Regions from separate parts of the Homo sapiens genome. Here all the other regions are linked to region 3. Evidence: fine-mapped expression QTL. A gene starts in region 3. Each other region holds a variant in brackets. All regions are shown on one strand. Distances are from middle to middle.

What was found. PIP is the estimated chance that this variant, and not a neighbour inherited with it, causes the effect.
Region 1: its variant is the best candidate, but not a certain one, in a credible set for the expression of IQGAP1 in anterior cingulate cortex (GTEx, PIP 0.58).
Region 2: its variant is the best candidate, but not a certain one, in a credible set for the expression of IQGAP1 in whole blood (INTERVAL, PIP 0.74).

What each region holds. Positions count from the first base shown.
Region 1 is chr15:90,422,033-90,428,507 of GRCh38, forward strand. IQGAP1 (IQ motif containing GTPase activating protein 1) reads left to right here. Exons shown (of 38, transcript NM_003870.4): 3 at 4,078-4,234. Among named protein-coding and RNA genes, the nearest start is that of IQGAP1, 37 kb to the left of the region's middle. The variant A/T (reference allele first, on the strand shown) is at 2,447.
Region 2 is chr15:90,457,722-90,464,196 of GRCh38, forward strand. All of the region lies in intron 15 of IQGAP1 (IQ motif containing GTPase activating protein 1), which reads left to right. Among named protein-coding and RNA genes, the nearest start is that of CRTC3, 69 kb to the right of the region's middle. RefSeq lists an enhancer at 5,872-5,961. The variant CAAAA/C (reference allele first, on the strand shown) is at 3,578.
Region 3 is chr15:90,385,256-90,391,730 of GRCh38, forward strand. IQGAP1 (IQ motif containing GTPase activating protein 1) reads left to right here and starts at 2,987. Exons shown (of 38, transcript NM_003870.4): 1 at 2,987-3,141; 2 at 5,519-5,618. The coding sequence starts at 3,087. It also overlaps the pseudogene NDUFA3P4. RefSeq lists a silencer at 2,711-3,490.

The DNA of each region.
Region 1 (6,475 bases), 37 kb after region 3:
ATACCTTTAATTATTAAAAAGTAGGCAGAATGTGGAGAGATACCAGCCTTTTTCCTTCTTGGTATTTCTGCGATTTTTCCCTTTTTAGACAGCCTGTGGAGCTCAACCCCTTTTGGCTTTTCAGGTGATATAGTGAGAGCAAGAGTGATACTGTGAGGAGGATTCTAAACCTAGCAATCAGTCTTGTTATTCCATCTTTGCCACTAGCTATTGGATGACCTTGGATCAGCCTCATTCTTATTTGTAAATGGGAGGAAGTGCAAATAGATTATTAGCCTCTGAGCAGGCTTGTGGCCAGTTAGATTCTTTTTCAATGTTTATATTTTTAATTTTGGAGTTGTACTTCTAAGGACCTTTACTAAGGAATTAATTCTAAATAAAGAAGAACACCGTGCACAAAGATATTCCTTGCACTATTATTTAATGGTTGAAAACATTTAGAAATGACATAAATGTCTAAGATAGGTGACTTATTAAGGACTTGGTTAAATTTTTATGTAAACTTAAAGTCTTCAGAAACTATATAATAACATGGAAAATATAAACATTTCAGAAATGTTTAATAATTGTCTCATTCATATATATATATATATGTATATATATATATGTATATGTATATATATATATGTATATATATATATATATATAATTTTTGAGACAGAGTTTGTATATATAATTTTTGAGACAGAGTTTTGCTCTGTTGCCCAGGTTGGAGTATGGTGGCACGATCATAACTCACTGCAGCCTTGACCTCCTGGGCTCAAACGGTCCTCCTGCTGCAGCCTCTCAAGTAGCTAGGACTACAGGCATGTGCCACCACGCCTGGCTAATTTTTAAATTTTTTGTAGAGACAGGGTCTGGCTGTGTTGCCAGGCTGGTCCTGAACTCTTGGGCTCAAGCAATCCTCCTGCCTTGGCCTCCCAAAGTGCTGGGATTACAGGCGTGAGCTACTGTGCCTGGCCATTTTTAGATATATATTATATTAAAAACAAACAAAGGGATTTTCCCTAGAAGTGCATTTGCTTCCTGGCTCTCAGGTTTTCTGATTCTGTGATTTAGTAGAAGAAGGGGAAATCTCATGTGAGCTGTAGAGAAAGACTGAAAGAAGTGTTTGTTGTGTCATCTTGGAATTCGAGTAGAATCCAAACTTCTGCTAACATTAAAAATGTTAACATGGCACTTTACTTTTCAAAGCAGTTTGGTCCTGATTTGTTCGTTTGTGACAGGGTTTCACTTTGTCACCCCAGTTAGAGTGCAGTGCCACCATCTCAACTCACTGCAGCTTCTACCTCCCAGGTTAAAGTGATCCTCCTGTCTTAGCCTCCCAAGTATCTGAGACTATAGGTGCACACCACCACACTGGCAAATTTTTGTATTTTTAGTAGAGATGGGGTTTCGCCATGTTGTCCAGGCTGGTCTGGAACTCCTGACCTCAAGTGTTCGGCCTGCCTTGGCCTCCCAAAGTGCTGGGATTACAGGTGTGAGCCACTGCATCCTACCTAGTCCTGATTTATTTTATAAACAAACCAGGTGATACTCCATTGTGAAATAGCTCAGATTGGTGGGCAAGCCACATATGTGGTGAGGTGACTTGGAAGGCAGCTTCAGGTTTGAGCAGTTGTTTAGAAACAATGTATTTTGCCTCCCTGTTTATTCTAGCTCATTCTTTCTGTTTAATAACTTTCACCAAATCACAGTTGGCCTTTCTTCTCTGACCTGACACCTGTGTTATATAAAGAGCATTCTACCCAGCTATAGGAAACATCTAAGTCAGGACTGTTTTATAGCAGTTGGACTAGGGAAAGGAAATATAAAGAATGCTGGGAGATGTTACCATGGGCTCTCCTTTTATTTTTGTCTAGAAATCTCAGAAAAGAGGAAAACCTAAATACCTCTGGTAACTGGCTCTGATTCAAGGCAAAAGTATCTACTGTGCTCTTTATCCGTAGTTTTCCCTGTGTGTTTACTTCATTTTAAAAAGAAAAATAAGTAACTTTTTTTTTTTTTGGTACTGTTACGTGCTTGAGGGCCATTTTTGGCTTAGGCTGAGGTTGTTAGGTTTTCACTGTTAATGAGAACCCAAGTTAGATTGTCCCCTGAGAGCTGGAGTTGCCAGTAGTTGTTTGCCAGAATGATTTTATCAACATCCTTTTTAGCAGTAAAAAGATGAGATGTGTCCTTGAACTACACTATTTTCCGTACCGACAACTGCCAATCTTTTCCACATTGCCCTTTGCATCTTTAGGCTGAATAGAGGTATAGTTTAGATTTTTGTAGCCATTTCAAATTGGTATCTCATTTATTATGACAACTCTTCTGGAAAACTCATTTGTTTCATTTTTCCCCTTTCTGACAATTTAAGTTCTACTATTTGAAAGAAAGAAAAGACAGCAGAGAAGCTTATCATCGAGTATAGGAAACAACCAGAAAATTATCTGGCCCATTC[A/T]TATACCCATCAGGCTTCATGTGTTAGAGAGTACGCTGCCTAATTTAAAGGTAGAGTAGATTTAAAAGCAAGACTGAGCTGGGAACGGTGGCTTACGCCTGTAATCCCAGCACTTTGGAAGGCCGAGGTGGGTGGATCACCTGAGGTCAGGAGTTCAAGACCAGCCTGACCAATATGGTGAAACCCCATCTCTACTAAAAATACCAAAAAATTAGCCAGGTGTGGTGGCACAGGCCTGTAATCCCAGCAACTCGGGAGGCTGAGGCAGGAGAATTGCTTGAACCCAGGAGGCAGAGGTTGTAGTGAGCTGAGATTGTACCATTGCACTCCAGCCTGGGCAACAGAGTGAGACTCCAACTTAAAAAAAAAAAAATTGAGTGAAATAATTTTAAATTAGGAGTTTTAAATCTAGGGTTCCTAGAGTCAATGAAGTCTCTGAAATTACATGTAAAATTTAAGTATATGTATATTTTTCCAGGGGAAGGTTCTATAGCTTTCCTTCGATATTCACAGGATTCTGTGGCTCAGTGGTTGAAAACTGTTGCCATGGTCCGGGTCCAGTGGCTCACACCTGTAATCCCAGCACTTTGGGAGGCTGAGGTGGGCGGATCACTTGAGGTCAGGAGTTTGAGACCAGCCTGGTCAATATGACGAAGCCCCGTCTCTACTAAAAATACAAAAATTAGCTGGGCATGGTGGTGCATGCCTGGAGTCCCAGCTACTCAGGAAGCTGAGGCAGGAGAATTGCTTGAACCCGGGAGGCGGAGGTTGCAGTGAGCTGAGATCATGCCACTGCACTCCAGGCTGGGCAATAGAGTGAGACTTTGTCTCAAAAGAAAAAAGAAGAAAAGGAAAAAAAAACCATTGCCATAAATGATCTTTAGTTACCTATGTTTCCGTTGGTAGAAAATACATGTAACTAAACTTTCCTTTGTTTTATCTTAGGCTTTCTTGAAATGTACTAAGAGATATTTGAAGGGGAAAATACAGTTTTCTTTTTTTCTTTGTTTTATTCTTTTTCTTTTTGGAAAATAGTTTTCTTTTCCTATCCTTTTTACAACCTCCTCCCTGCCTCCAAAAATCTGAGAATTCATTATTTACTGCTTCCATAGGAGTTTCTTTTAATATTTTAGCTGAAATAATTGAGTCTGTTTTGATAACCCCCAAGCAACCTTAAAACTTGGACCTAGAAATTCACTGTGGATTCTGAGTTCTGCAACTGGAAGAGAATGTCAGCAACAAATTAAAGCTTCTGAACAGTTGAAATGGTGGCTTCAGTTACCAATGGCTTTTCTTAGGATTTGTTAAAGAGCAACTTAAGGACTGAGGGAAAGGGTCTGAGGTTCTGGGAGCAGTCAGGATCTGGGGAGCCAGCTGGCTGTGTTGCTGCAGCAGAGGAAAGTGGGGTGGAGAAGAAAGTGGCATTTATGCTCAGGAATTTTCCTAAGTTCCCCGCCTCTGAGATCTGACTGGGCCAGGCAGGGAAAGGATGTGTGTGGAACTGATTGTAAAAGAGTGCTATTATGTTCAGTTTAAGCTTCTCCAAGGAGAATGGAAATAAAGCTTAAAATCTCTAAGGAAAAGTTCTGACCTTCCCTTTCTTTTTTTGCATCCTCTCTCCTTTGGTGCAGGTGGATGGAAGCATGCCTAGGGGAAGATCTGCCTCCCACCACAGAACTGGAGGAGGGGCTTAGGAATGGGGTCTACCTTGCCAAACTGGGGAACTTCTTCTCTCCCAAAGTAGTGTCCCTGAAAAAAATCTATGATCGAGAACAGACCAGATACAAGGTGAGTCCTTCCTTGCTTTGTGCTTAGATTTCTGTCAACTTGAGAAAGTTAGCATGTTTTATTTTGTGTAAGAGTTATTGAGAAGTCTGTGTAAGGTGTGTTTGTTGCAACAAATTATAGCCTTTAAAATGCCTGGCAGAATGGAGAAATTTGTGCAAAGGCAATATGTACTAGGCAAATATTATTACATCTCTTTTAGAATTTATCTGGAAAGCCCGCCTCCCCCCTACCCTGTCCCCCCACAAAAAAATATGTACTAGGAAAAGAACTTTAGCTGTCTTTGTTTCTGGTAGAATTCTTATGATGTTATATATCTAGAAATTTTCCTAGTTGTAGATGAATTTTTTAATTCTTTAGAAGGTAGAAGAAATAACTAGGGGAATTACCACTTTAAATCTAGTTTTGGGGCCGGGCGCGGTGGCTCACGCCGGTAATCCCAGTACTTTGGGAGGCTGAGGTGGGCGGATCACAAGGTCAGGAGTTCGAGACCAGCCTGACCAACATGGTGAAACCCCGTCTCTACCAAAAATACAAAAATTAGCCGGGCGTGGTGGTGCATGCCTGTAATCCCAGCTACTCAGGAGGCTGAGGCAGGAGAATCGCTTGAACCCGGGAGGCAGAGGTTGCAGTGAGCCGAGATCATGACACTGCACTCCAGCCCTGGGTGTCAGAGTGAGACTCCATCTCAAAAAAAAAAAAAAAAAGAAAGCCTAATTTTAGGCTGGGCACACTGATTCTCACCTGTAATCCCAGTACTTGGAAGGCCAAGGTGGTAGGATCACTTAAGACCAGGAGTTTGAGAGTAGCCTGGGCAATATAATGAGACCCTGTCTTACAAAAAAAAAAATTAGCCAGACATGGTCACACATGCTGTAGTCCTGGCTACTTGGGAGACTGAGGCAAGAGGATTGCTTGAGCCTAGGAGGTTGAGGCTGTAGGGAGTTAGTATTGCGCCACTGCACTCCCACCTGTCTCTTAAAAAAAGAAATGAATTTTAAGCACTGAGATTTGTTGGCAAATTGAATGCAAAAGTAACTTCATGAAAAAACATCACCCTGCGTTGCTGGAGTTCAAGGTACAATGGGAAAGTGATTCAGTTTCAGAAAATTGAGATAAGTGAGAGGGTTTGATTCCTGTATCTCAAGGTGCTATAAAAAAGAAGACTGACTGCTTAATTAAGTTGGAATGTTGGGCCAGGCCCAGTAGTTCATGCCTGTAATCCCAGCACTTTGGGAGGTTGAGGCGGGCGGATCACTTGAGGTCAGGAGTTCAAGACAAACCCGGCCAACTTGGTGAAACCCCATCTCTACTAAAAATATAAAAATTAGCCAGGCTTGGTGGCGCACACCTGTAATCCCAGCCACTCAGGAGGCTGAGGCAGGAGAATCACTTGAACCCAGGAGGCGGGGGTTACAGTGAGCTGAGATAGCACCACTGCACTCCAGCCTGGGCAACAGAGCAAGACTCTGTCTCCCAAAAAAAAAATGGGGATGTTGACAAGGACCAAATTTTCTTGTCTACAGAGGTTACCTGTGAATCCTTATTTGAAAAATGATGACTATGAAAGATAGTGGAGAATTGCATTACCAAGACCAAATGTAAGGGTGGTCAGCTGTAATAACTGGGCCCAAACTCAGAATGAGTAAGGCTACAATGTCAAAGAGATAATTTTTATGTTTTATGTTTAAATTCAAGGGAAAACAAGGAACGGTATAGGTACTCAGCCAAAATTAACATCATAAACAGAAACTTTCCTTAAACAAAAAGACTTATATGTTCAGTGGGTTTTTTTTGTTGTTGGTTGGTTGGTTGGTTTTTGTTTTGAGACAGGGACTTGCTGTGTCACCCAGGCTAGAGTGCAGTAATGCCATCATGGCTCACTGCAGCCCTGACCTCCCTAGGCTCAAGCAATCCTCCCACCTCAGCCTCCCTAGTAGTTGGGACTATGGGAGCATGCTACTACACCAGGCTAATTTAAACAAATTTTAGTGTAGAGATGGGGGTCTCACTATGTTGCCCAGGTTGGTCTCCAACTCCTGGGCTTAAGTTATCCTCCCACCTTGGCCTCTCAAAGTGCCAGGATTACAGGCATGAGCCACTGTGCCCAGCCCTTTGCTCAGTTTTGAATACACAGTTATTCTGAAGACAACTCTGGAGCTATTCTGTAGGCAGAATGGGAAGATAGTGTAAAAGGAGAGCGGAGACTCTGCAGCAACAATAAAAAAAAAATGGCTGGGAGGA
Region 2 (6,475 bases), 72 kb after region 3:
CATGAGCCACTGCCCATGGCCTGTAAATAGTGCTTCTATGAATTTTTAATTTTGGTTAAAAACATATATGTGCATTTCTGTTAGGTATACATTTTGGAGAGGAGTTATGGCCATAGGGAACACATATATGAAGCTTTAATAGATAATGTCATGAAGGTTTTTTGTGACAACTTAATTGAAACGTAATTCACGTATCAGGTAATTCAGCGTCAGTGGACTTTAGTACGTTGATAGAATTGTGCAGTCATCACCACAGTCAATTTTTGAACATTTCATCACCCCAAGAGAAACTCAGTACCCATTAGTAGTCACTCATTTTCCCTTAATCTCCCCCAGCCCTGGGCAACCATCAGACTGCTGGTTTGTCTATGGGTTTGTCTATTCTGAACATTTCATATAAATGGAGTTATGCAATGTATGGTCGTTTGTGACTGGCTTCTTTTAGCTTAGTTTATCCAAGCTGTAGCAGTAGCACTTCATTTCTTTTTGTTGCTGAATAATATTCCATTGTATGACTGTACCACATTTTATTTATTTATTCATGAGTTGATGACACATGGATTATTTCCACTTTACCACATTTTATTTATCCATTCATGAGTTGATGACATATGAATTATTTGCACTTTATTCGTGATTTGATAGACACTTAGCATGAGTGACAGCTATATAAGTTGTATCTTCAATCTACTTCCCTTTTTAGATATGGAAGCCGACCTAGCTTATTCTCCGAAACCCCACTCCTCTGACAGTCAGATATAAGGCTCCCTTTGGACTTTCTTAGCAGCAAAAACAAACATTACTACCACTAGCATACATAGAATCATTGCAGCCTGACACATTAGAGATTCTGAATCAGTAGAATTAGACTTTAAGCTTAGGAATCTGTATTTTAAAAATGACTTTTTCATTGTTCTGATGACCAGCCAAGTTTGGGAAACACTAATCTAATAAAATGAATCAAAGACAGAGACTTCCATTTCTAGCTTCCCTAGAGCCAACTACTTCTTATCCGAGTAAGTAAAATCAGTTGATCTCAATTTCCTGGCTATGAAATAGCAGTTGTGATTCAACCCTCTCCACAGCATCAAGTGACATTCTGCATAATTATATCTCTTAAATGAAACCTGGTAGTATCTATCAGATACTACACTTACATGATTAGGACATGGTAATGTCAACTACTGCCATGCCAATGTAATCAAAGGAGATCAGTCAACATCATAATATTACCAACATATAAAATTGCCCACTCCTCTACCCTTCACCAAAACTTACAGAGCCCACACGAGTGTCAGTGTGCAAAAAGCTCCAATACACTAAAGCCTTGGTCTGTTTTTATACGTCTGGCTACTCAGAATTAAAAATTTCTTTTAGCCCTTCCGCTTGCTGCCTCACTTCAGGAGTCTTCTGAAGGCTATGGTTCTATCCAGTTGTTGTTACTTAGTAAGCACTGAAAAGGAGGTCAATCACAATTAGAAAACAGATGTTAATTATGCTTTAATCAACAATTATTTGAGGGCCTACTACATACAAGGCAACTTCCTAGACAGCAACAGCATAAAAAGAGGCATAAACCTTGTCAATTTCCTCAGCAAACTAGGTAGCGGGTAAGACAAACATTTTAAAAGATGAGTTTATGTTACAATTACTTTAACAACTTTATCTTCATAGTAGCATTATTCCTGATAGCCACAGTGGAAAAAAACAGTATGTCTATCAAGTCAGGAATAGATAAAGTGTAAATAATTCAAAAGGCTGTGTGTGCGTTTTGTTTGGGTCATCGGAGTAAAACTTTTTGAGGATGTGACTATAGAGTTTGAAGCATTTCCTTTGCTGTGGAATAACTTTTCAGACTTCATCAAAGGCGGAGGAAGTCGGGGGAGTTAAAGGAAAAATTGCTTAACATTGCCAGGCCCAGCTGGGTGAACTACACATTGGGTGGAATTGTTTTTTGTTTGTTTGTTTTTGGTTTGGGTTTTTTGTTTTGTTTTGTTTTGTTTTTTGTTTTTGGCATCACCTGAGCATCTAAGTCTCCATCAGCCATTTGGGAGTGTTTTTAAAAATATTTATCACTGAGTTACAAATTTAGAGAGCAAAAGATCTTAATTTAAATTTGGTCTGTAGTTTTATTTTCTTCTGATATCTTTGTGTTTGGTTTTGGTATCAGGGTAATACTGGCCTCATGACTTGAAGTGTTCCTTTTATATTTTCAAAGAGTTTGTAAAGGATTAGCTAGTTCTTTAAACATTTGTTACAAGTCACCAGTGAGGCCACGTGGTCCGGAGTTTTTTGTGTGGGGGATATTTTTTGTTTTGTTTTGAGCTGCAGTACTGTGTAGGAAAGGGGTCCCGATGCAGACCCCAAGAGATGGTTCTTGGATCTCACACAAGAAAGAATTCAGAGAGAGTCCATAGAGTGAAGTGGAAGCAAGTTTATTAAGAAAGTAAAGGAATAAAAGAATGGCTTCTCCATAGACAGAGCAGCCCTGAGGGCCGCTGGTTGCCCATTTTATATTTCATGATGATATGCTAAACAAGAGCTTTATCAGATCTTTTCTGAGCATGTGCACAGCCCACACATGCACTGTGGCCTCCTAGATCCCATCCAGGAATATGTCAAGTTGTCAGAGCTCTCCATGAACATCTCATTCTCCAGCTTTTCCTTATAAGGTTTTTAGTTAGTCTCTTGTTTGCCTAAACTGTTATCCTTAATGTTTTTGACAATTGCTTTTGGAGAAAAGGCTGTTTGCAGTGGATGAGCTCTTGGTCAGGTCAAATAAAGACAGCCATGCGAGTGTGACCTCTGAACAGGTCAGCTAATGACAGTTCTTTGGGAATGGGGCTTTGAAGGGATGGTAGGAGGGGCAGATTGGAATAGGGGAGTTTAAAGCACCACAGAACTCACTGTTCTTACTGAGTTTCAGCTGTTTTTCTTGAATGCATTCTCCAATTTCTGCAAGCCTTTGGTTAATTTCTACCGTATTGAAAAAACTGGCCGGGTGCAGTGGCTCATGCTTGTAATCCCAGCACGTTGGGATGCCAAGGCGGGTGGATAGTTTGAGCCCAGGAATTTGAGACCAGGCTGGGCAAGATGGTAAAACCCTGTCTTAACGAAAAATAAAAATATTAGCTGGACACGGTGGTGTGCACCTGTGGTCCCAGGCACTTGGGAGGTTGAGATGGAAGGATCACTTGGGCCTAGGGGGCTGAGGTTGCGGTGAGCCAAGATTGCACCACTGCACTCCAGCCTGAGTGACAAAGCAAGACCCTGTCTTTAAAAAAAAAAAAAAAAAAAAAAAAGGGCTGGGCGCAGTGCCTCATCCCTGTAATCCCAGCACTTTGGGAGTCCCAGGTGGGCAGATCACCTGTGGTCAGGAGTTCGAGACCAGCCTGGCCAACATGGTGAAACTCCATCTCTACTAAAAATACAAAAAATTAGCCAGGCGTGGTGGCAGGCACCTGTAATCGCAGCTACCCAGGAGGCTGAGGCAGGAGAATCACTTGAACCCAGGAGGTGGAGGTTGCAATGAGCACCACTGCACTCCAGCTTGGGTGACAAGAGTGAAACTCCGTCT[CAAAA/C]AAAGAAAAACTGATGCTGGTGATTGTTTGCCAGTGTACCAATGTTTTTTGTTTGTTTGTTTTTCATGGTGGAGAGGATTTTCAGAGGTCTTTACCATTTTCACTAATGTCACGTTTCTCTTCATTAAATTTAGTGTTTGTGGGACTCTTGATAAAAGTGGATTACTAGTCGTGAGTAGTACAGTCTGAATGCAAGACATGGATATCAGGGCTCCTCAAGAACTCATTTTATAATTAAGAATATGAATGACTTAGGCCGTGTGTGGTGGCTTACGCCTATAATCCCGGCACTTTGGGAGGTCAAGGCAGGCGGATCACTTGAGGTCAGGAGTTTGAGACCAGCCTGGCTGACATGGCGAAACTCCATCTCTACTAAAAATACAGGTGTGGTGTACACCCCTGTAGTCCCAGCTACTCAGGAGGCTGAGGCAGGAGGATTGCTTGAACCCGGGAGTAGGAGGTTGCAGTAAGCTGAGATCATACCACTGCACTCCAGCCTGGGTGACAGCGAAGCTGCATCTCAAAAAGGAAGAAAGAATAAGAATGACTTAAATCGGCTGGGTGCGGTGGCTTACACCTGTAATCTTTGTACTTTGGGAGGCTGAGGCAGGTGGATCACGAGGTCAGGAGATCAAGACCATCTTGGCTAACACAGTGAAACCCCATCTCTACTAAAAACACAAAAAAAAAAAAAAAAGAAAAAAAAAAAATTAGCCCGGCATGGTGGTAGGCGCCTGCGCCTTTAGTCCCAGCTACTCGGGAGGCTGAGGCAGGAGAATGGCATGAACCCAGGAGGTGGAGCTTGCAGTGAGCCAAGATCGGGCCACTGCACTCCAGTCTGGGCGACAGAGCGAGACTCTGTCTCAAAAAAAAAGAATGACTTAAATCTCTCTCTGACCTCCATGTGTGTATATGCACTTATGCACACATGCTTATATACATGTAGCTAGTAATCAGCTGGTTCACACCAGCACAGCTGTACCAGTTGTTAGGACATTGAAATTCTTTTATTTTGTTTGGTACATTGTTACTGTCCCAACCCTCCCATATCTTTGCCATCACTCCCCAACTCTAATTGAAATCCCACTATATGGCAACTAAACCAGCAGTGACCATAAGGACTCTGCTCCATCCTGATTGGTCAGTGCTTATGTTGTGTAGTTGATAAACGTGTTGTACAGATTTGTGTATGTGTGTTTATGTGTGTATGTGGTATATATGTGGTTATATATTTATATATGTAATATTGGGTCTATCATCACACATGCAAACCAAGCCACATAGTAAGTAAAGTCTTTTTAAAAAGTTTTGAGTGATGAGAAGTGCCCTTTAGAGGGGTGTGTGAGTGTGTGCTTTCCATATATACATGTACATAACATAGTCATTCCTTTGCCTCTTCCCCCTTTTCCTGTGTTTGTGGCTTCTTCACCTCTTCTACCTCCAATCATTGCCCACTCTTTTTTTAAATTCTGACTTCTGGTCCCTATCTCTTTACCTCTTCTGAAATGCAATCAGCGTGTTTCTAAGTGTCAGAGTTGTTAGGGAGCTGTGCTTGAATATATCTTAGATAGCATTTTTACAGCAAATCTGTTTTCTCTCCATAATATCTAGCCTGGGCTTTAACACTCTGCTCAGTCATTTGAGTTAATCTTTAGGTAATCTCTTTAAAACAAATTTTACCAGAAGGATTTGGGTTTTGTCATTTTATTCAGTCTAATTGGAGCAGAAAGAACCTGTTCTTTCTTCTTACACTGGGATGAGGTGTAGTGTATGCTGTCTCTCTTTCCTTCTTCATTCTGGTGAGGGGCTTTTCTGTATTAATGTTTCCCTGAAACACCTGAGACACCCATCCATTCACTTTTTCTTGCCTTTCATACTATTGCTCTATTGCTTATTTCTTAAGGAGTATGTATGAAAGGTTTTACTTTAATCTGCATGGGGCAGGGAAGAAAGAATTCTGAATGCTTAGAAAGGTTCTACCTTTCTCAATGCAAGGGAGGTTGTGCTAAGTCTCACAACTTTGCTTACAGCAGATTCTGCTCAGATATCTGTTGTATGATTATCCCAGAAGTGAACCCAAAATGGCTTGATTCTGTGGAAATGCTTCTGTTTTTATGATACGAGGATTTTTCTGCTGCTTCTCTTGGAGACTAGACCATCAGCCCTCTCGCTTATGACTTCACAATTTAAGTTGTCACAAGCCTGCAGCTGACTCATTGTATTGTCTCACATTGGAACTATTGTCTAGTATTTCCAGTAGTTATTCTTAGGACTCTAGGGGATGGTGTGTGGTCATTTTCTATTTTCAGTAATAGAAAGCGACTAGTGGTAGGAAGGTACTAGGTTCTGCAGCTTTTAAGTGATTTATTTGTTCTTGCATTCTATTTATCTGTTTACTCTTTCCCTTTCCCAAGACTGTGAGCTTCTTAAAATTGGGACAGTGCCTCTTAGAATTGTAAGGCCAGCACCTACCATAATTAGGTTAAATGATCTTTCTAAAAGACTGCATTTAAGAGAAATCACTGCTTTCAATTTCAGATGCTTTCCTTTGGCCTTATCCTGTCACCTGCACTCTTTATAAATTGCAGGGATTGTGGCTGCTTCACTATATGGAGTGAAATGTTGTGTCTTTCTCTAATAAAACAGGAGGAAAGCCAAGCCTTCCCTAAGGTTTTGTGACTTCAACTGTTGGGCAGTGAAACGTTTCACTTTGCCTCAAAGCTCAGACCCTGCCTCATTTAGGCACATAGTTATGGTGATTTACTAAGTTCTTTATTCTGCCTCATTCATGCCTTGGCAAATTATATTCACATCGAGCAATCTAAATGAATTTTTGAGCTGCTATTTATACCAACTGCTGTTAGCTCAAGCCTCAGGAGTATGTTAATTTTGTT
Region 3 (6,475 bases):
GGTGCCCGCCACCATGCCCGGCTAATTTTTTTTTTTTTTGTGTTTTTAATAGAGCTGGGGTTTCACCGTGTTAGCCTGGATGGTCTCAATATCCTGACCTCGTGATTCGCCCACCTCGGCCTCCGAAAGTGCTAGGATTACAGGCGTGAGCCACCGTGCCCGGCAATTATTATTATTTTTTAAAAGACAGTCTCGCTCCGTCAACCAGGCTGGATTGCAGGAGCACAATCTCGGCTCACTGCAACCTCTGCCTCCTGGGTTCAAGTGATTCTCCTGCCTTAGCCTCCCGAGTAGCTGGGACTACAGGCGTGTGTCACCATACTAAGCTAATTTTTTTGTATTTTAGTAGAGACGGGGGTTTCACCATGTTGGCCAGGCTGCTCTCGAACTCCTGACCTAAGGTGATCCACCCACCTTGACCTCCCAAAGTGCTCGGATTACAGGTGTGAGCCACTGTGCCTGCCCTAGTAGGCATAATTTTAAATATTTGAAGATGTTGAATTAACTGAGTGAGACTTAAAAAAAAATTTTCAGGAAATTTCAGAATGCTCTATGTCCTCGTTGCCATTGCGGCTGCCTTTCTCAAGAATGCCTGGCCTAAGGAGCGGGTGCTGGTCCTGTTCCTCACCATCGGGGGCCTAGCTATAAATCTGACCCCAGTCTGCCCCTATACCATGTACTCCACCAGGATCAACTAGGCCACGCCCCACAACAACCCAGTGCCCCTCCGAGATGATGGGAACATGCTGGACATGCCCAGCCACCCCCAAGGCCCAAGCATGGAGTGGTTGAAGAAACTGCAAGCACTTCCATTGACATGGAGAAGACCATGTCCCCTGTGGCCCCCAATAAAAATGTGACCCCCCCGCCTCCGAAATAAATAAATCATTCAGTTTCTGAAAAGTGTTTGGTAAAATGTGCTAGACTTATAAATAGAATAATACAATTTGTAAAGTGAACTTAAAAGCTTAAGAATGAAATAACTTTTTACTTTGTAGGCTTAATAAATGAAACCCTTGCCCACTTTTCTACAGGGGTGTTTTGTTCTTACAGGTTTTCAAGTATCTTTAATAGTCTGAAGGAAGAGTGAATACATTGAAAATAGCTGGAGCAAAACATCTGGAGTCAGGCTATGATTTGGCATGCTAAATCATGCTGAACTTGGCCCATTATCTTGAAGGGAGGAATAGAAAAAAAAATTTAAAAAGAGAAACACAATTGCATTTGCACTTTAGAGAGAACACCCTGATAACTGTGAGGATCTAGTTGGCAGAAGGGCGACTACAGTGTAATCACAACAGGGATGGAGACAAAAGTAGACATCTCAGAAATAAACACAGATTGGATGTAGGGTGCGAGGCAAGGAGCCTGGGGTGTTCCCACTGGGAATTGAGTACTTCTGTGAATAGAGAATATAGCAGGAGCAGGGTCAGTATTTGACACGTGGGATTTGAAGTGTCTGCCCTATACACAGGTGAAAGTGTTCATTAGCTGAAAATACTGAGGGACTTCCAGACGATCTGGTCTGGTGATACATATCGAGGGGTCCTCAGCAGTTATAGGCGAGTGTAGAAAAGATTACTGAGTAGGCAAAGAATAAACGGAAGAGGGCCGGGCGCGGTGGCTCACACCTGTAATCTCAGCACTTTGGGAAGCAGAAGCGGGTGGATTACCTGAGGTCAGGAGTTCGAGACCAGCCTGATCAACATGGTGAAACCCTGCCTCTACTAAAAATACAAAAAAAGTAGTTGGGCGTGGTGGCGGGCACCTATAATCCCAGCTACTTGGGAGGCTGAGGCGGGAGAGTCGCTTGAACCCGGGAGGCGGAGGTTGCAGTGAGCCGAGATCGCGCCACTGCACTCCAGCCTGAACGACTGAGCAAAACTCCGTCTCAAAAAAAAAAAAAAAAAAAAAATGCCGGGCGCGGTGGCTCACGCCTGTAATCCCAGCACTGTGGGAGGCCGAGGCGGGTGGATCACGAGGTCAGGAGATCGAGACCATCCTGGCTAACACGGTGAAACCCCGTCTCTACTAAAAATACAAAAACTTAGCCGGGCGCGGTGGCGGGTGCCTGTAGACTCAGCTACTCGGGAGGCTGAGGCAGGAGAATGGCGCGAACCCGGGAGGCGGAGCTTGCAGTGAGCCCGGATCGCGCCACTGCACTCCAGCCTGGGCGACAGAGCGAGACTCCGTCTCAAAAAAAAAAGAAAATAAAAAAAAAGAAAGAAAGAAAAGAAAAAAGAATAAACAGAAGAGGGCTGCGGACAGAATACCGTTGAATACCAATATCTGAAGGGCAAGCCACAAGGTGCAGGGGGCAGAGGCATCCCTGATACGGGAAAAGAGTTATTTTAAAAAGAACTTGCAAAGAACAATGTCAAGGGATCCAAAGGTAGGGAATTTGGACAGAGTTCGGCTTTAGCATCCGCATCTCAAATACCTGGGTACCTGGGTAATCTGGTGACTGCTGCCGAATCTAAGAGGACTGAGGCCAGGTTGCCAAACTGCGGAGAGTGGGGTTGGAGGGCTTTCATGGCAGTTTGGGGCCTGCTTGTGTCCAACAAGACAACCTGGGTCACCTCAAAGGGTGTCTTCTCCAAATATTGGTGCAGAGGTTAGCTGGGCCGGCAAGAGAAGGGAGATGACCCACTATTTTGATTTCAGGCAGCAGACACCGGCAGCCTTTCGGTTAGAGTTGCGGATAGGGCAGTGGCCTTGGGGGCGGGGCTATAAACCTGGGCGGGCATTCCCGGCAGGGCAAGCTCAGCGTGAGCCCGATTGGAGGATGGGCTCTACCTTCTTCCTTCCGCCTACGGAGACCATAGCGGGATGCAGGGCGGGGCCGGGCTGAGGGGGCGGAGTTAGGGGCGGGGCACGGTGACTCTGGCCCCGCCTCTTTCCGGCCGCTCAGGGCGGTGTCGCTGGGGCGGTGCCGCTGGGGCGGGGCCTGCGGGGTGGGGCTGACGGCACGGGGCGGGGCCTCGGGGACCCCGGCAAGCCCGCGCACTTGGCAGGAGCTGTAGCTACCGCCGTCCGCGCCTCCAAGGTTTCACGGCTTCCTCAGCAGAGACTCGGGCTCGTCCGCCATGTCCGCCGCAGACGAGGTTGACGGGCTGGGCGTGGCCCGGCCGCACTATGGCTGTGAGTGCGGGGCTCCGCGGCGCGGGGGCTTCGGGCTGGGCTAATTGCAGACGAGGCGCGATTTTCCTGGGGGCTCGGCCGGGCGGGTGGGGCAGGGCGGCTGCCGGCAGCTCGGACCCGGAAGAGCCGTCCCGGTGGGGCGGCGGGCGGCGGGCGGGGAGGCCCCTGGTTCGCGCCCCCTCGGGGTCCGAGGCGGCGGAGAGGACCCCCGAGGCCTCCCGCCTTAGCTGGGGCCGCGGTAGGGGGAGCCCCACCCAGCGCCTCTCGCCGCCCAGGCTCGGCCGAGATTGGGGAAGACGGCCTAGAGTGAGGTGGCAGGATGACCGCGCAGGGCGTGTCCCGGGGATTGGGGGTCTGGGTACGCGGGCTCTGCCCGTTTCGTGGAAAGGCGCTGCCCTAGTGTTGCCTGCGGGGTAGACCCAAGGGATAGACCAGGGTCCAGACCTGTCCGGTCCCAGGCTAGCTACGAGGTGCCGTCCTGGGCAAGTCACTTCAGTTTTCTCGGGCTTAGTTCCCTCCTCAAGATTTCAAAAGTAAAATAGTAATAAAGAAAAAAAAAAGAAGCAGAAAATCCTCTGACTTCCTCATTTTCTGTTGTCGGCCCTGGACGTCATTGAACTGCAGGCAGGATTGGCTAAAGGAGGACCCTTTGGGATTTTGAGGTTTTCGGTTTTATTTTATATTGTGGGAATAATGTTCTTTTTTAAAGGATCAACATTTCACGCATCAACAGTTATACGTGAGGTATTGTGCCACGTTTGTGAAATTAAAGATGAGTAAGATCAGGCCCTGTCTCCAAAGAGCGTTTTAATCAGAGAGTCAGGTGTGCAAGCTAATGATTATAAGGTGCAATAATGATAAAAGATGCTGAACTTACTAGCCATACAGAGTAATGTAGGTAAGGAGAAGGGGCCTGGGGAAGACAGTATGAGCACGGGAGGTGACTTTTTTTTTTTTTTTTTTGGAGACAGGGGGTCTTGCTCTGGTCGCCCAGCCTGGAGTTCAGTGGTGCAATCTCAGCTCACTGCAAACTCCACCTCCCAGGTTCAAGCGATTCTCCTGCAGTCTCCCGAGTACAGGCGTCGGCCACCACACTGGCTAATTTTTGTATTTTTAGTAGAGACAGGGTTTCACTGTGTTGGTCAGGCTGGTCTCAAACTCCTGATCTCAAATGATCCCCACGCCTCGACCTCCCAAAGTGTGAGCCACTGCACCTGGCCTGAAGGTGACATTTGAACAGAGCCTTGAAGAATGCTGTGTAGAAAGTTTGACAGGTGGCCAGGCATAGTGACTCCTGCGTGTAATCCCAGCACTTTGGGAGTCCGAGGTGAGAGGATAGTTTGAGGCCTTGAGTTTGAGACCAGCCTGGGCAGCACAGTGAGACTCCATCTCTTAAAAAAAAAAAAAAAAATTAGCCAGGCGTGGTGGCCCATGCCTGTGGTCCCAGCTGCTTGGGGCTGAGGTAGGAGGATCATTTGAGCCCAGAAAGTCGAGGCTGCAGTAAGCCATGATTGTGCCACTGCACTCGAGCCGGAGTGACAGAACAAGACCCTGTCTCAAAAAAAAAAAAAAAAAAGTTTGATAGGGCATGTGGAACAAGAGACAGGACCTGAGGGAAGAGCATAAACAAAGGTATTGAAAGTAGAGGGATACTGTGTTGGGAACTGAGTGATGTAGACTGCACAGTGGTGGGAGGAAGGGAAGAGGAGAGTTTCCAAAAATAGTTGGGACCAGACTGGGAAAGGCCTTGAATGCCTTCCCAAGGAGTTAGGAATTTATTCCACACCTGGTGCCCATGAAGGAAGCAGATTGCTTCAAGGTTAAGCTCAGGCTTTGGAGACAGACTCTCCAGGTTTGGATTCAGGCCCTGTCACTTATTTGCCATGGGGCTGAGTTCACCCAGCCTCAGTTTCTTCGTCTGTAAAATAGGAGTGATAATCACAGGATTGTTGTGGGGTTTCAATGAGAGAATGCGTGTAAAATGCTTCGTACAATTACTGCCACTTATGTCTCAATAACTGCTGGCTTTGGTCATTAATAAAAGAGGGAAACAATATTATCAGATCTGTATTTAGAAGGAGTTCTGGCAGATAGGGACAGATTTGTGCCAAAATCTCAAGACAGTATTTTTCAAGATTACACTGAAACTTAGTACATATTTATATTATCATACATTTTTAAAAAGGTCAAGATGATTATAGTTGAAACCACATAGTTCTTTTTTTAAGAAAGTCATTGTAGTACACCTGGCTGGCTACACACTCATTAGTTATCCTGACTTTCTAGGTGAGTGGCAGGAAATTGATTCTGTGGCAATCTTTTATCACTCAGGAAGGCTACAGATCCTGGTGTTTACATTCTTTCTTTTATGTTGTAGCTGTCCTGGATAATGAAAGACTTACTGCAGAGGAGATGGATGAAAGGAGACGTCAGAACGTGGCTTATGAGTACCTTTGTCATTTGGAAGAAGCGAAGAGGTAAAGATTGGCTGGCTGGAGAGAAGATTAAGAGAAGGGAACTGATAATAGTGTGAATACAAATAAAGATTGCTTTGAGGCTGAACACAGTGGTCCATGCCTGTAATCCCAACACGTTGGGAGGCCGAGGTGGGGGGGAATCACTTGAACCCAGCTGTTTGAGACCAGATTGGGCAACATAGTGACACCCCATCTCTACAAAAAAATTTTAAAAATTAGCCAGGCATGGTGGTGCATGCCAGTAGTCCTAGCTACTCGGGAGCCTGAGGAGGGAGGATCACTTGAGTCCGGGAGGTCGAGGCAGCAGTGAGCCGTGCTCTCACCACTGTGCTCTAGCCTGGGTGACAAAACTCCTGTTTTTGGTGGGGGGAAAAAAAAGAAAAGATTTATTTGAGTATGTTATAGATGTAACTGGGAAGCTGGTGGTTGAGGGAATAAGTATAGGTAGGGTATTTATTTATGGCAATAAGTAGCCTTGATGAGAGTTTATCATGAATCACTGTGATGGGCATTTAAGTGTACTGAACGGTTTTCCAGGTTTCTATTGTTCAGTCTTATGCTTATTGTGCATGTTTTGGGCGTTACCAACTGTGGGGTGGAAATAGCATTTTTAGGATTTGAAGTTATTGGCTTTAATGTTTCACTTATGCTTCATGAATTTTGATTTATATATGAATTGAGTCTCCTCCTCCTATGACCTGCGGAGTGGCTGCTTGGTTTGGGAGGCTTAGAAGCGTGGTGCTGTTGGTGTAGGTCCATCTGTTTGGCAATATTCAGAGTCAGCATCCTCTGCATTCTTTGTGAAGTGAATGTAAAGCTGCTCTTTTCCTTTTTCAGATGCCCCACAACCTTGTGGT